2 linked regions of the Homo sapiens genome follow. The protein of the gene in region 1 purifies or fractionates together with the protein of each later gene. This does not show direct contact. Each region holds a gene or a part of one and is shown on either strand. Other genes may lie near its edges.

Region 1 (7,051 bases):
AACTATAATAGAAAGTTAAGGGCCAGGCGCAGTGGCTCACGCCTGTAATCCCAGTGCTTTGGGAGGCTGAGGTGGGTGGATCACTTGAGGTTAGGAATTCAAGACCAGCCTGGCCAACATGGTGACACCCCGTCTCTACTAAAAACACACAAAAAATTAGCCGGGCGTGGTGGCACGTGCCTGTAGTCCCAGTTATTCTACTTGGGAGGCCTGTAGTCCCAGCTACTCTACTCTAGTCCCAGCTACTCTACTTGGGAGGCTGAGGCAGGAGAATCGCTTGAATTTGGGAGGCGGAGGTTGCAATGAGCCGAGATCACACCACTGCATTCCAGCCTGGGTAACAGAGTAAGACTCTGTCTCAAAAACAAAACAAAACAAAAAACAAAAAAAGAAAAGAAAGAAAGAAAAAAAATGAACTCACCGGAACCAAAGGGGTGTCTTCTATAGGAAACTTGGAATCAACAGAGACGCACAAAGGCTCATTTTTCTCACAGCTCTGCTGGCTGATGAGTGTGTCTGCATAGTTGGGCTGGGGGAAGATCAGGTGACTCTTCCTTGAGTCAGCGGTGAGGGAGAACTCCTGAGAATAGGTCTGTAGGAAAGCTCGAACCCCATCTACACCCACAAAGTGTGAGGTGGGCACACCAGCCAACCCATCACTGGTAGCCCGCAGCAGATGCGAGGAGTGCCAGTGCCTCAGCCTGAGGGCCAGCAGCGTGATAACGAAGGTGAGGAAGACACAGGAGACGACTGCCACAGCCACAACGAGGTAGAGGGTAAGGTCTGAGGCCTCCAGGTCTGCAGGGATCTGAAGACTGCCCAGGTCAGCCAGGATGTCTGGGATGCTGTCAGCTATGGCTACTGTGAGCGTGACAGTGGCCGAGAGAGGGGGCTGGCCATGGTCCTGTACAGCCACCACAAGGCTCTGTTTGAGCGCATCTCTATCTAGCAGGGCCCGAGCTGTGCGCACTTCACCTGTGTGCAGCCCCACCGAGAAGAGCCCTGGCTCACTGGCCTTGAATAGGCGGTAGGAGAGCCAAGCATTCTGGCCTGAGTCTCTGTCCACTGCCACCACCTTGGTCACCAGGTAGCCAGGCTCTGCAGAGCGGGGTGCCAGCTCCACACCAGTAGAACCATCAGTGGGGAGGGCAGGGTACAGGATTTCTGGGGCATTGTCATTCTGGTCCAAAACAAACAGTCTCAATGACACATTGCTGCTAAGTGGTGGGCTTCCACTGTCACTTGCCGTCACCTGCATTTGCAAATCTCTAAACTGCTCATAGTCAAAGGAGCACAGAGCATACAGCACACCAGTGTCTGAGTTAATAGAGACATAGGTGGAGAGAGGAGACCCTTGGATGGTATCCTCTGCCAAGGAGTAAATAACTCTAGAATTCTCATTGCTATCAGGGTCATAGGCAATCACGGAGAAGATGGAAGTACCTCTGGCGTTGTTTTCCGGGAGGTAGACTGAGTAGGAGGCTTGAGAGAAAGCAGGTGGATTATCATTGATGTCAGTCACTTGCAGGGTGATGTGAATTTCTGTGGACAGGGGCGGAGTTCCTCTGTCTGTTGCAGTCACCGTGATATTATATTCTGAGGCTTTTTCTCGGTCAAGAATTTGGGCCGTCAACAATCTGTAATAATCTTCTTCTGAATTTTCTAATGTAAAAGATAGATTCTCCTGGATAGAACAGACAACTTGACCATTCTTCCCGGAGTCTCGGTCATGAGCATTGAAAAGAAGAATTACTGTTCCCTGAGGTGCGTCTTCTCTCACTGGGCTAAACAGAGATGTAATGGTCACTTCAGGTCTATTGTCATTTACATCTTCCACCGAAATGAGCACTTTTGTCCACCCTTTCAATCCCCCACCATCTTCAGCTTGTATTTCCATTTCATAAAATGAACATTCTTCATAATCTAGACTTTTTGCTGTTGATATTTCCCCAGTATTTTCATTAAGCTGGAATAGCAGAGATTGTTTTTCATTAATTTTCCAGAATTTGTATGCCACTTTTCCGTTGATTCCCTCATCCAGGTCGCTGGCTGTTGCAGTAAGCAGCCAGGTGCCTGGGGGCACGTTCTCAAGGACTTTAACTCGGTAAATCCGTTGAGCAAAAACCGGGGCATTATCATTTGTATCCAACACTGTCACATGGATGCGCACTGTGCTGGAGCGACGCGGCTCGCCGCCATCCGAGGCCGTGAGGACCAGGTGGTGGGCAGTTGCCTCCTCCCTGTCCAGGGCGCGCTCCAGCACCAGCTCTGGGTTTATGGCTCCATTGTCTCCAGTCTGCACGTTCAGGGAGAAGTGGTGATTGGGGCTGAGCTGGTAGCTCTGGAGGGAGTTCACGCCAACATCCGGATCAATAGCTTCTGGAAGTGGATAACGTGCTCCAGGAACCGCGATTTCGTTAATTTTTACTTCCAGACTTTCGGCCTGGAACTTTGGGGCGCTGTCGTTAATATCAGTTACTTCTATTTCTATTCCGTACAGTTTCACTCTGTCTTCAACCAGGACTTTAAAGTTCACCAGACACCGCGGGCTCTGAGCACAGAGCTCCTCCCGGTCTATCCTACCCGCGGTGACCAAGGTGCCGCTGCGCGGGTTCAGAGAGAAAAGCTGCGTCCTACCTCTAGAGACGATGCGGACTCGGCGCTCCGCCAGCTCCCGGGGCTCCAGAGCCAGGTCCTTGGAGATGTTGCCCACAATATAGCCCTTTTCTGTCTCTTCAGGCACTGAGTAGCGAATCTGACTGGCCCTGGCCTCCCATAGCATCCCCAGGAGCGAGCATAGCAGGACTAATCTTCCGCGGAGCTGGCATTTGGTTGGAGCTGCCATTGCTGCCTCGCTTTGGAATTTTCTCAAAAGGATCTCTGTGCGCGCTGCTTCATCAGGTTCTTTCTTCCACCCTGCAAAGTATGGTGATCTTTTCCTTAGAAGAAAGAGGCTGAGTTTTGCTGCAGCCTGGGAGCAGGTTTGTGGTATCTGCCGGGTTTTGTGTAGCCGCAGAACTGGAAATCCGGATGGAGTCCTGATTTTCGCTTAGAGTTGATCAACAGCGGCGCTCAGAGTCCTAAGCCGTTACTACACCCACTGATGTGTAACATTATATCAGATGGCTGATAAAGAAAACACTACTCTCTTCTAATTATGATTTTAGATTTCTCCAATTGTTTCTTGCATTTGTATTTCAAAAGCAATCTATTTTTTAGATATCTGAGTTGTAAATAAAGTGGAATAAAATTTCTGTAAGTGTATTATAAAATCACAAACCATTGCTTAATATTAATTTATTCTTATTCTTGGTAGAACTTTGCACTCTATTTCTAGATATGTAAACTATTATAATTTCCTTTTTATGATGCTTCAATTTTTTCTGTGTATCTTAACAATTTTCTGAAGTAATTTTTATGTGCAATCTTGTTTGGAAGTACATTCATTTTTAATTTTTATACCTATATATTTGTAAATGTAAAATATATAATTGTATTAATACATATATAAGGATAGATTATCCACTTTGAAATTATTTTCTGGGGTTTATTTTGATGATAAAATTCCTGGAAAAACGTTTATTTTAAATTTTTGTATTATAAAAGTAATATTAATTCAGCAATAGTTACAGATGTTCTCGCCTAATATTGCTAAATATTAACAGGATTAAAGTTGGAAATTTTCACATTTTTGTAATTGCTTAAACTTTTCTGCTATTTCAAAAATGCTTAGTTTTTTAATGTGAATATGTAATGCATGCACAGACTGTGTTTCAATGATTCAAATGCATATACACTGAAAAGCAAGTTTCTATTTTAATCCTTCATCAATAAATTATGCAATTTTAAAGTGGTCTTAAACATTATTCTAAGCATCACTTAAACTTATATAATAATTTGGGAAAAAGAACACAAAATATACAACAAAGAAAACTACTGAAAGGTTAAAAGTAAGTGGTATTATAAGAAATCTCAGCACTTTGTAAGGAACCCATTTACTGAATCACATACTAAGGGAAACCAAGCAAAAGACTTATACCATGTAATGGGAGCTTTGTATGTACACAAGACTAGTAGTTTTTGTCTTAAAAATGGAATAATCCTGTATTCACCTTCCATCCTACAAGGATGTTGAGAAAACATCCAGTCATTTATATTTAAAGCTCCAAACGATAAGACAAATCCGGTGTCTTTTTCCCCTTCTTCAAGAATATGTCAGGATTCCGAGCAAGAGAAATTCAGGCAATAGCATTTCCTTTTTTTTGTAAGTTTCTTCTGGTAATTATATAGAGGTGGAAAAGGATTTTGCATCCAAGAAAACCTGGATAAACTTAGAAAATTATTTGGATGATTTGGACCTTCTAAGTTCAGTGAATCAGTCTCTCTCTTTCTCTCTCATACACATAACATGTAGTATTTTTCTTCTTCTTCCTCTCCTTCTCCTTCCTTTTTTTTGAGATGGAGTTTTGCTCTTGTTGCCCAGGCTGGAATGCAATGGAGTGATCTCGGCTCACCGCAACCTCCACCTGCCAGGTTCAAGCAATTCTCCTGTCTTAGCCTCCTGAGTAGCTGGGATTACAGGCGCCCGCCACCACACCCAGCTAATTTTTGTATTTTTAGTAGAGACGGGTTTTCACCATATTGCCCAGGCTGGTCTTGAACTCCTGACCATGTGATCCAACCGCCTCGGCCTCCCAAAGTGCTGGGATTACAGGCATGAGCCACTGCACCCAGCCAACATATAGTATTTTTAATAAAATTTTAGGAGATTCAAAAAATCATAAATCCATTAGGTAGGAATAAGAAAGCATATATGAGGAACATAAGAAAGAGATGAAAACTACCAGTGAAATCAGTGAAGAAAGACATCTACTAGCAGTTTCTTTGCTTTAAAAGATGAATTAAATGATTACATACATTAAATTTAATGGTTTATCTACATACAATAAAATATAAACATGTTAAAGAATGAGACAACGAATAGGTAAAATTCATTAGCTTTGAGAAAGAGGACAAAAAAACGCACCAAATGTTTTTGCTAGAGAGGAAGCTAAGAGCAAACTCTCACTACTTTGTAAATCTATAAGGCTACTTCTTTTATGCGACATAAAAACTCACAATTTACTGCTCCTCTTAAAGAATGGTAGGACAGCTTTCTGAGCAGCTCTGACTTCCCTAAGACAACTCATTGGACTTGAAAATGTACGATAGTTTCATGTAAATACAGAAAATTGGGTGGGTAATGAAAAAGAATAGACATAAATGAAACTCACCAACTCAGGATGGGAAGTCGACTCGCTGGAATTACAAAGTGGAAATAAGGCCCCAGATGAATCACCACAAAGTATGTCTTGTCCTGAACTCAATTGCTCACTACATTTTAGGAAATTAAACTCCGTCTTTCCTGTATGTGCAACACATAGGTTGTAGGAATAAGGCAAAGTCCCCTGACTGTAGTTGGGGGGAACCACAGGTCCAGACTTGACACAGAGACCAGGTTGGAAGCAGCTCCAGGCGGCAGGGCTGGAGGAGCGTCGCAGGCGCAAGGCAACGGCCAGAATCACGGCCAGGAGGAAGAGCACTGAGATCAAGGCCAAGGCCACCACTAGGTAAAACTGCAGCTCAGCCTGGGGGTCAGAGGGTACAGGGCGGTCAGTGATATCCGGCAGCACCTCCTGCAAGCTGTCAGCAAAGACCAAGTGCAGCGTGGCGGTGGCGGAGAGTGGCGGCTGTCCACCATCACGCACAGCAACCAGCAGGCGCTGGCGGGCCGCGTCCCTGTCGCCCAAGGCACGCGCTGTGCGCACCTCTCCTGTGCGCAGCCCCAGGCTGAAGAGCCCGGGCTCGCTAGCCTGCAGCACGTGGTAGGACAGCCAGGCGTTGTGTCCTGAGTCTGCGTCCACGGCCACTACCTTGGTCACCAGGTAGCCGGGCTCTGCAGCGCGCGGCACCATATCGAAGAGCGCAGAGCCGTCGGGACCCAGCGCGGGGTACAGCACCCGCGGTGCGTTGTCGTTTCGGTCGCCCACCAACACGCGCAGGCTCACGTTTGCGCTGAGCGCAGGCGAGCCCTGGTCGCGGGCCTGTAGTGTGAGTTCGAAGGTGCGCAGCTGCTCGTAGTCAAAGGCGCGCTGCGCGAACACCACCCCACTTTGCGCGCTCATGGACACGTAAGAGGCCAGTGCCAGAGGCTCTAGGTCGCTGGCCATGATAGAGTAGGAGACTTGGCCGTTCAACCCCAAGTCCAGGTCCGAGGCGCAGACTTGCGCGATGGAGGCCCCAGGAGGGTTGTTTTCGGGTACACTGACTAAGTAGGACGCCTGGTGGAAAACCGGAGCGTTATCGTTGACGTCTCTGATATGTAGGATGACGCTTATGCTGGAGGAGAGGGGCGGCTTGCCCCTGTCTGTGGCTGTGATGGTGACATTGTACTCCGGGGTTTGCTCTCGGTCTAGGGTTCCATCTGTTACCAACTTATACGAATTTTTGGATGAAGAGATAATCTTAAAAGGGACTTCGCCTTGTAATTGACAATTAACCTCCCCATTTTCCCCAGAATCTTGGTCATGTATTTTGATCAAAGCAATTAGTGTTCCAGGCACCGCGTTTTCCAGAATCATTTCAAGTAGAGAATGGAATGTAACTTCTGGGCTATTGTCATTTTCATCTTGAATATTAATTTCAACTGTACATTGTGCAACCAGTCCACCACCATCCCTCCCTTCTACAACCATTGAATATTCCTTGGTCTCTTCAAAATCCAGTTTCTTTTGAGTGGTAATTTCTCCGCTCTTTGAATTCAGACTAAAGATTTGCCCGGTTCTGTAGAAGGAATAAGTAATTTCTGAGTTGATGCCCTCGTCTTGGTCAGTGGCTGACACTTGCAACACAGTGGTGCCTGGTGGCACGTTTTCCCGAAGGCTGACTCTGTACACGTCTCGGTTGAATACCGGGGGATTATCATTGGCGTCGGTTACCTGGATCCGGAGCTCAGTGGTGCCGCTTAGGGGTGGATGTCCACCGTCCAAGGCAGTCAGGACTAAACGATGGT
Region 2 (7,169 bases), on another chromosome or scaffold:
TCACTTGAGCCCAAGAGTTTGAGACCAGCCTGGGCAAGATGGTGAAACCCCATCTCTACAAAAAATACAAATATTGGCCGGGCATGGTGGCAGGTGCCTGCAGTCCTAGCTACTCAGGAGGCTGAGGTAGGAGACCTACCCAGGAGGTCTAGGCTGCAGTGAGCCGTGATTGTGCCACTGCACTCCAGCCTGGGTGATAGAATGAGACCCTGTCTCAAAATAAATAAATAGCGGGGCACAGTGGCTCACGCTTATAATCCCAGCACTTTTGGAGGCTGAGATGGGTGGCTCACTTGAGGCCAGGAATTTGATAACAGCCTGGCCATCATGGCGAAACCCTTTCTCTACTAAAAATACAAAAAGATTAGCCGGGCTTGGTGGCAAACACCTGTAGCCCCAGCTACTGGGGAGGCTGAGGCAAAAGAATCACTTGAACCTGGGAGGCAGAGGTTGCAGTGAGCTGAGATTGCACCACTGCGCTCCAGCCTGGGCGACAGAGTGAAACTCTGTCTCAAAAAGAAAATTCAAAAATAAATAAATAGGCCGGGAGTGGTGGCTCACGCCCGTAATCCCAGCACTTCGGGAAGCCGAAGCGGGTGGATCACCTGAGGTCAACAGTTGCAGACCAGCCTGGCCAACATGGTGAAACCCCGTCTCTACTAAAAACACAAAAATTAGCCTGGCTTGGTGGCGGGCACCTGTAATCCCAGCTACTCGGGAGACTGAGACAGGAGAATCGCTTGAACCTGGAAGGCGGAGGTTGCTGTGAGCCAAGATCATGCCACTGCACTCCAGCCTGGACAACAAAAAGCAAAACTCCATCTCAAATAAATAATAAATAGATAAATAAACCTTTTAAAAAGTTATATATAATATTATATATATTTTATATTTATAAATATATAGTTATATACTTATATTAAACATAGATTATAGTTTACAGCTGCTGTGTTTCTATATCTTAGCTATTATGAATAGTGCTGCAATAAATACGGGGGTGCAGACATTGATTTCATTTCCTTTTGGATATATACTCAGAAGTGGGATTGCTGCATTATATGGTAGTTCCATTTTTAATTTTAATTTTGATGAACATTCATACTGTTTTCCATAGTGACCGTACCAATTTATGCAAGAGTTCCCTTTTCTCCACATCCTTGCCAATACTTATTATGTGTCGTTTTGATAATAATGGTTCTAAGAGGTGTGAAATGATTGCTCATTGTGGTTTCGATTTACATTTCCCTGATGATTAAGGATGTTGAGCACCTTTCCATTTACCTGCTGGCCATTTGTCTGTTTCCTGAGAAATGTCTGCTTAGATCTCTTGCCCATTTTTAAACCAGGTTATTTGGGATTTTTTGCTATTGAGTTATTTAAGCTCCTTATATATTTTGGATATTAACCCCTTATCAGATCGTTTTTGATTTGTAAATATTTTCCTCAGCTCTGGAGGTCACCTTTTTACTCTGTTGTTTCTTTTGCTGTGCAGAGCTTTTTAGTTTGATGCAATCCCACCTGTCTATTTTTGCTTTCGTTTCCTGTGCTTTTGGTGTCATATCCAAAAAATCATTGCCCAAGCCAATGTCAAGTTTTCCCTATGTCTTCATCTAGTAGCTTTACAGTTTCTGGCCCTATAAGTCTTTAATCCATTTTGAATTGATTTTGTATATAGTGTGAGATAAAGGTCCAATTTCATTCTTTTGCATGTGGATATTCATTTTTAGGGATGACGAAAATGTTCTGGAGACGGATGACGGTAATGATTGACAACTTTGTGAATGTAGTTGATTTCACTGATTTGTGCACTTAAAAATGATTAAAATAGTCAATATTTAGTTATGCATATTTTACAACAATGAAAAATATTTAGGCCGGGTCCAGTGGCTCACACCTGTAATCCCAGCCCTTTGGGAGGCCAAGGCAGGCAGATCACTCGAGGTCAGGAGTTCTAGACCAACCTGGCCAACATGGCGAAACCCCATCTCTACTAAAAATACAAAAACTCAGCCGGGCTTGGTGGCATGCACCTGTAATCCCAGCTACTCAGGAGGCTGAGGCAAGATAATTGTTCGAATCCGGGAGTCAGAGGTTACAGTGAACTGAGATTGCGCCACTGCACTCCAGCCTCGGCAACAGAGTGAGACTCCATCTCAAAAAAAATTTTTTTCAGAAAAAAAAGAGAAACTTGCCCATGTTATGGAGCTAATGAGTGGTGGAAATGCGTTCTGAACCCAGGCAGTCTAGTTCTAGGATTCTGGCATATGTCACCAAAAGAGATTGGGATATGAAAGGCCTTTAGGGAAAAATACAAAGCATGAGAAAAAAAATGGAAATACTAAAAAATAATAGGCCATTTATGGAGCTTTGCTCCTTATCAGTTATCTTTCTTCAGGCAGCTAGAAATGGTGGGAAACACTCAGGATCGAAGCTCTAGGAAAACTGGTTCCAAGTCTGGAAACTATGAGACTGCAGCAAATTCCCCCTAGTCTCTCAAGCTTCCTCCTCCTTGGGGTTAATAGCCAATCTGCCAATCTTCAGGATGGTTGTGCAGGTCACAAGAGTTAATGGGTGTGTGTTTCAATGATCTATTACTGAAATGATCTATAATAAACCACCCCACTCTAAAGCTGGGCTTAGCTGGGCAGTTCTTTTGGTCCACATGGTGTTCATGAGGTTATTCATGTAGCTGCATTCAGCTAGTAGCTCAGTGGGGGTTGGAATGTCCAAGATGACTTCAGTTACATATTATAGTGCTTAGCTGTAGTTTCTAGAATGTCTTGAGGAGTTGGCTGGGCCTCCCTCTCTCTCCAGGTGCCTTTCCAGCAGAGTAGCTACACTTCTTTATAACCAAGAAGGTAGAATCAGACGTTTTCAATCCTCTTAAGGCCTAGGCTCAGTACTGGCAGAATCACTTGTAGCACATCCTATTGGTCAAAGCAACCAACATGACCAGCCAGATTCAACAGGAGGTAAAACAGAGTCTATCTCTTGAGGAGAGAAACCGTATGCTCATCATGCAAGGACGGACAGAACTACGTGGCAGCCATCTTTGCAGAAAATCCACCACAGTGGTGCCCATAGGTGGGGATCAGAGTTCAACTGTCCCTTGCCCCCTAGAATTAGATAAAAAGAGTCTAATGAACTGTTAGCATAATGCTAAGTGCTGCAGCACACAAAATGCTCGGCAAGTGCTGATGATTATTATTAATCATTATTATTCTTTTAATAGCTTTTTTAAAACAGTCTAAGATAGCACTGGTACTGTATTCAGTTTAAAGTGATATACATGGGTCAAATGAACTTTGAGTTCTTTCCCAACCTTAATACCATGATTCTTTGAGTCTCTTTTTCACAGATTTGGAAACTGAGGCTTAGGAAGATTGCGTGACTTGTCTGGAGTCACACACTAAGCTAGTGCATGACGTCCACATTCAGAGATATCTCCCTCCACTGAATATGCTGGTTTTCACTCGTTCATTTAAAAAATAATGTATTGGGCATCTACCACAAGCCCAAAGGAGTATACATAAACATATACTGACAATTATTTATTGAATACATCCTATGTAATACTGTGTCACTGAATCCTCATCACAAGCCTATGATGAACCAACCCCCTTCCCATTTCACAGATGGGAATGAGGAAGAGCAAGGTAAAAAACGAACAAACAAAAAAACAGGGTCCACCCTCATGGGGATTACAGTCTACTAAAGAGGATATAGGATAGTCAAACAAATACTTAAAATCAAACAAATACTTAAATATATAATTACAAATTATTCTTGGAGTCGTACTGCTCTTGGAGCCCCAGTGCCCACCCTTTCCCTCAAATCAAGGTCTCAGGTAACCCTGGCAATGGGTCTTCCTGCCAGTAGTAAAGATGGCGCTGAGAGCACGAGCGCACTTTCGCACACCCCCATTACCCACAATGCAGCGGGAATAAGGGAGGCTCAGTTTCTGCCAGGAGCTAATATGGCTTCCTTAGTTACACCGTTCTCTCTCTTCACCTAATCAGCGACCTTACTTTCCCAGACCAGACTGTCGAGCAGGAGCTAAGACTCCTTTTCCCCTCTGCTGACCGCCACTACAGGAGCGGTTGAAGCCAGACGACCACCTTGTGGAGTTAAACTCCGTAACCAGGGAGCACCACTTCCGCTGACGTCATTACGGCGACACGTGGATCCAAGATGGCGACGGCGATGGTGAGTGAAGGAGACTCCGGGAGCGGGAGCTGGAGCGGGGCCCTCCGGGGTATCCCAGGATCTTCCAGCACCCCATGCCTGGCCCTGAGCCACCTCCGGGACCCCTGACTCAGGCCTGAGGGCTACCTCTGACTGGGCTTGTCTTCCCCGAAATCCACCTCCCTGGCCCTGCCCCTGCACTCAGGCTTGTGAAGGCCCCGAGTTTTGGGGGAGGCGCCGTTTCGGAGGAAGACCTCGGCTGCTGCCTTCGCCGGTTCCCATTCTACTTTTGGTCTCCGCCCACTGTGAGCCCCATTTTCCATTTCTCACCTCCCTGTCCTGACCCCTCTGAAGACCCCCTCCCGTTATTCTCATCCTTGCTCCTCCCCGTCACGTCCAGACCCTGCTCTCCCCGCCTCCCCACCATCATAACCAGTCCGCAGATGTGACCTCTCCTCTGACCACCCTCCCAGCCCAAGCGCTGCCTCAGATCCTTTTCAGAGCCCTGTCCTCACTTACACTCATAGCTGTCCCCATCGCGCACCCCCTTGACTGCCGCTACCCCAGAGCTTGCCTTCACCTACCCCACCCCCATCTTTCATCCCTAGAGGCTTCCCTGCCCTTCCTGTCTTCTCTCAGTCAACTCCCTGCCCCTCTCTTAGGGACCTTTTACCCTGTTGGTTCTCAAACTTTACTGTGCATAAGAATCTCGAGGTGTGTAGGGGGAGGCATGCTAAAAATGCAGTTTCCTGAGCAGCCCCACTCCCAGAGATTCTAATTCCATAGGGCTAGGTGATGCCCAGGAATCTGCCCTTTTATAAGCACTCTAGTGATTATATAGTGGAGGTGGTCTGTGAACTACGTTTTGAAAAACACTAATAGCCCCACCTCACTGCTCTCCTTCCCATTCCCCAACATGGCCACACAGCTCGTTAGGGATGAAGGCTCTTTATTATGAAGCTATATGTTGGGATGAAGTCTGTGTGTGGATGAGGGTGGAGGTAAAATAGCCATGCTTGGAAGTTGGGTCAGAGCTTGCGGGCTCCTGGTGCAGAACCTTGGAAGTAAATCTTTGAAGGACTGGCCCTTTTTCTAAAAGTTTAGTTCAAATTCTGCTTGTCAAGAGACCAGAACTAAAATTGAAGTCACTTAGTCCAGAATGATTTCCTGGGTCTTCCTGCATACTGCCTCCTCAGCAGATAATTTCGTCCGGGGAGTGAATGACAAGGAAGACTCAGAGAAAAGGAAATGACATTTGACTTTAGCAAAGGAAGATTCTGGCTTAAATAATTTGGTGTTGGTTTTCTCCAAACAGGGATATATTATTGACTGGTAGCAATTTTCCCTCCTTCTCTTAGCTGACTGAGAACTTACCTTTGTTTAATGAGGGATTCCTTATTTAGAACTTCAGAGGTCAGGTAAAAAGATTTCATGGCCTTACCTGGTTTCTGTGGTTTCAGACTTCAGGCTGAACCACGAGTGGGGCAAATCCTCAAAGTAGTATGTTGAAACCTACATATATGTATATATATTCTGGTACCACATTCAGAACAGAGATAGTGTAAGAACTTAAAAGGAAATCACACCCTCTCTTGCTATAAGGAAAACATTGAGTAAAGTGGTATTTACGGCACTGCACTGGGAAATCCCTGCCTTGTTCAGAGATTTTTAAGAGGTTATAAGCTAGCAATACATATATGTGGTACACATCTATTTAGTCAACAAATATTTGAGTACCAATTCTGTTCCAGGAACTAGGGATGTAGTTGTGAATTACAGGGTCAAGGTCCCTACACTTGTGGAGCCTTTCTGGTTTGAGGAGACAGGCAGTGAACAAGTAAATACGTGAACAAAATAATGTCACCAGTAGATGCTGTGAGGACAGCAAAATGAAGTGATAGTGATTAGGGGTGACTGGGTGACACAACTACTTTGGATTGAGTGGTCAGAAAGAAGTCTTCTCAGAGGAGGTGACTTGAGTTAAAACATAATTAACAAGAAGGAACCAGCCATGCAAAGAATGTTCCAAGCAAAGGAAATGGCAAGTGTAAGGGGCCGATGTGGAAGGGAGCTTGGTGTTTTTGAGGAACACACAGAAGGCTGGAGGGGCCGAAGCATGATGAGGGTTGGGGTAGGAGAGAATGATACAAGATGAAACTGGAGGGAAGCAAGAGCAACTGTTTTGAGAAGCATGCCTGGAAATGGGAAGGACTGCGGTCTACATTTTGTTGTCTGTGGATTGCATTTTGAAATAGTGTTGTATTAGGCTGCTTCCCCTTCCCATCCCCTTCAGGACAGTACTTGAAGGGAGCCAGCTTGTTCTCAGTTGGCACAGAGGCTGTGGAAAGGAGTTTGGATTTTAGTCTAAGCACAGTGGAAGGGACAGTGATTTTTGCCCAGCACAGTGACTCACACCTGTAATCCCAGCACTCTGGGAGACCAAAGCTGGGAGATCGCTTGAGCTCAGGAGTTTGAGACCAGCTTGGACAACATGGCAAACCCCTCTACAAAAAAAATACAAAAAGAAAAAATTAGCTGGGCTTGGTGGTGTGCACCTGTAGTACCAGCTACTTGCGGGGCTGAGGTGGGAGGATCACTTGAACCTCAGTGAGCCCTGATCACTGCACTGCACTCCAGCTTTGGCAACAGAGCGAGACCCTGTCTTAAGAAACAACAACAGGCCGGGAGCAGTGGCTCATGCCTGTAATCTCAGAATTTTGGGAGGCTGAAGCAGGCAAATCACTTGAGGCCAGGAGTTCAACACCAGCCTGGCCAACATGGCGAAACCCTGTCTTCTAAAAATACAAAAATTAGCAGGGTGTGGTGGCACACACCTGTAATCCCAGCTACTCGGGAGGCTGAGGCACAAGAATCGCTTGAACCCGGGAGGCGGAGGCTACAGTGAGCCAAGATCGTGTCACTGCACTGCAGCCTGGGTGACAGAGTGAGACCCTATCTCAAAAAAAAAAAAAAAACAAAAAACA

The links. The genes of interacting proteins can lie anywhere in the genome.
Region 2: the proteins of PCDHGA9 (region 1) and TM9SF4 purify together in Homo sapiens (co-immunoprecipitation; 2 studies listed by BioGRID and IntAct, with this or other methods). This does not show direct contact.

Annotation. Positions count from the first base shown.
Region 1 is NC_000005.10:141,398,747-141,405,797, reverse strand, and holds the start of PCDHGA9 (protocadherin gamma-A9 isoform 1 precursor), read right to left. Parts: upstream 3,021-7,051; 5' UTR 2,846-3,020; coding exon 422-2,845; coding exon of another isoform or gene 359-421; exon of another isoform or gene 299-358; intron 1-298. Other genes in the region: PCDHGB5 (protocadherin gamma-B5 isoform 1 precursor), read right to left, coding at 5,274-7,051. UniProt on the Homo sapiens protein: Potential calcium-dependent cell-adhesion protein. May be involved in the establishment and maintenance of specific neuronal connections in the brain.
Region 2 is NC_000020.11:32,105,550-32,112,718, forward strand, and holds the start of TM9SF4 (transmembrane 9 superfamily member 4 isoform 1 precursor), read left to right. Parts: upstream 1-4,164; 5' UTR 4,165-4,191; coding exon 4,192-4,206; exon of another isoform or gene 4,207-4,490; intron 4,491-7,169. UniProt on the Homo sapiens protein: Associates with proteins harboring glycine-rich transmembrane domains and ensures their efficient localization to the cell surface.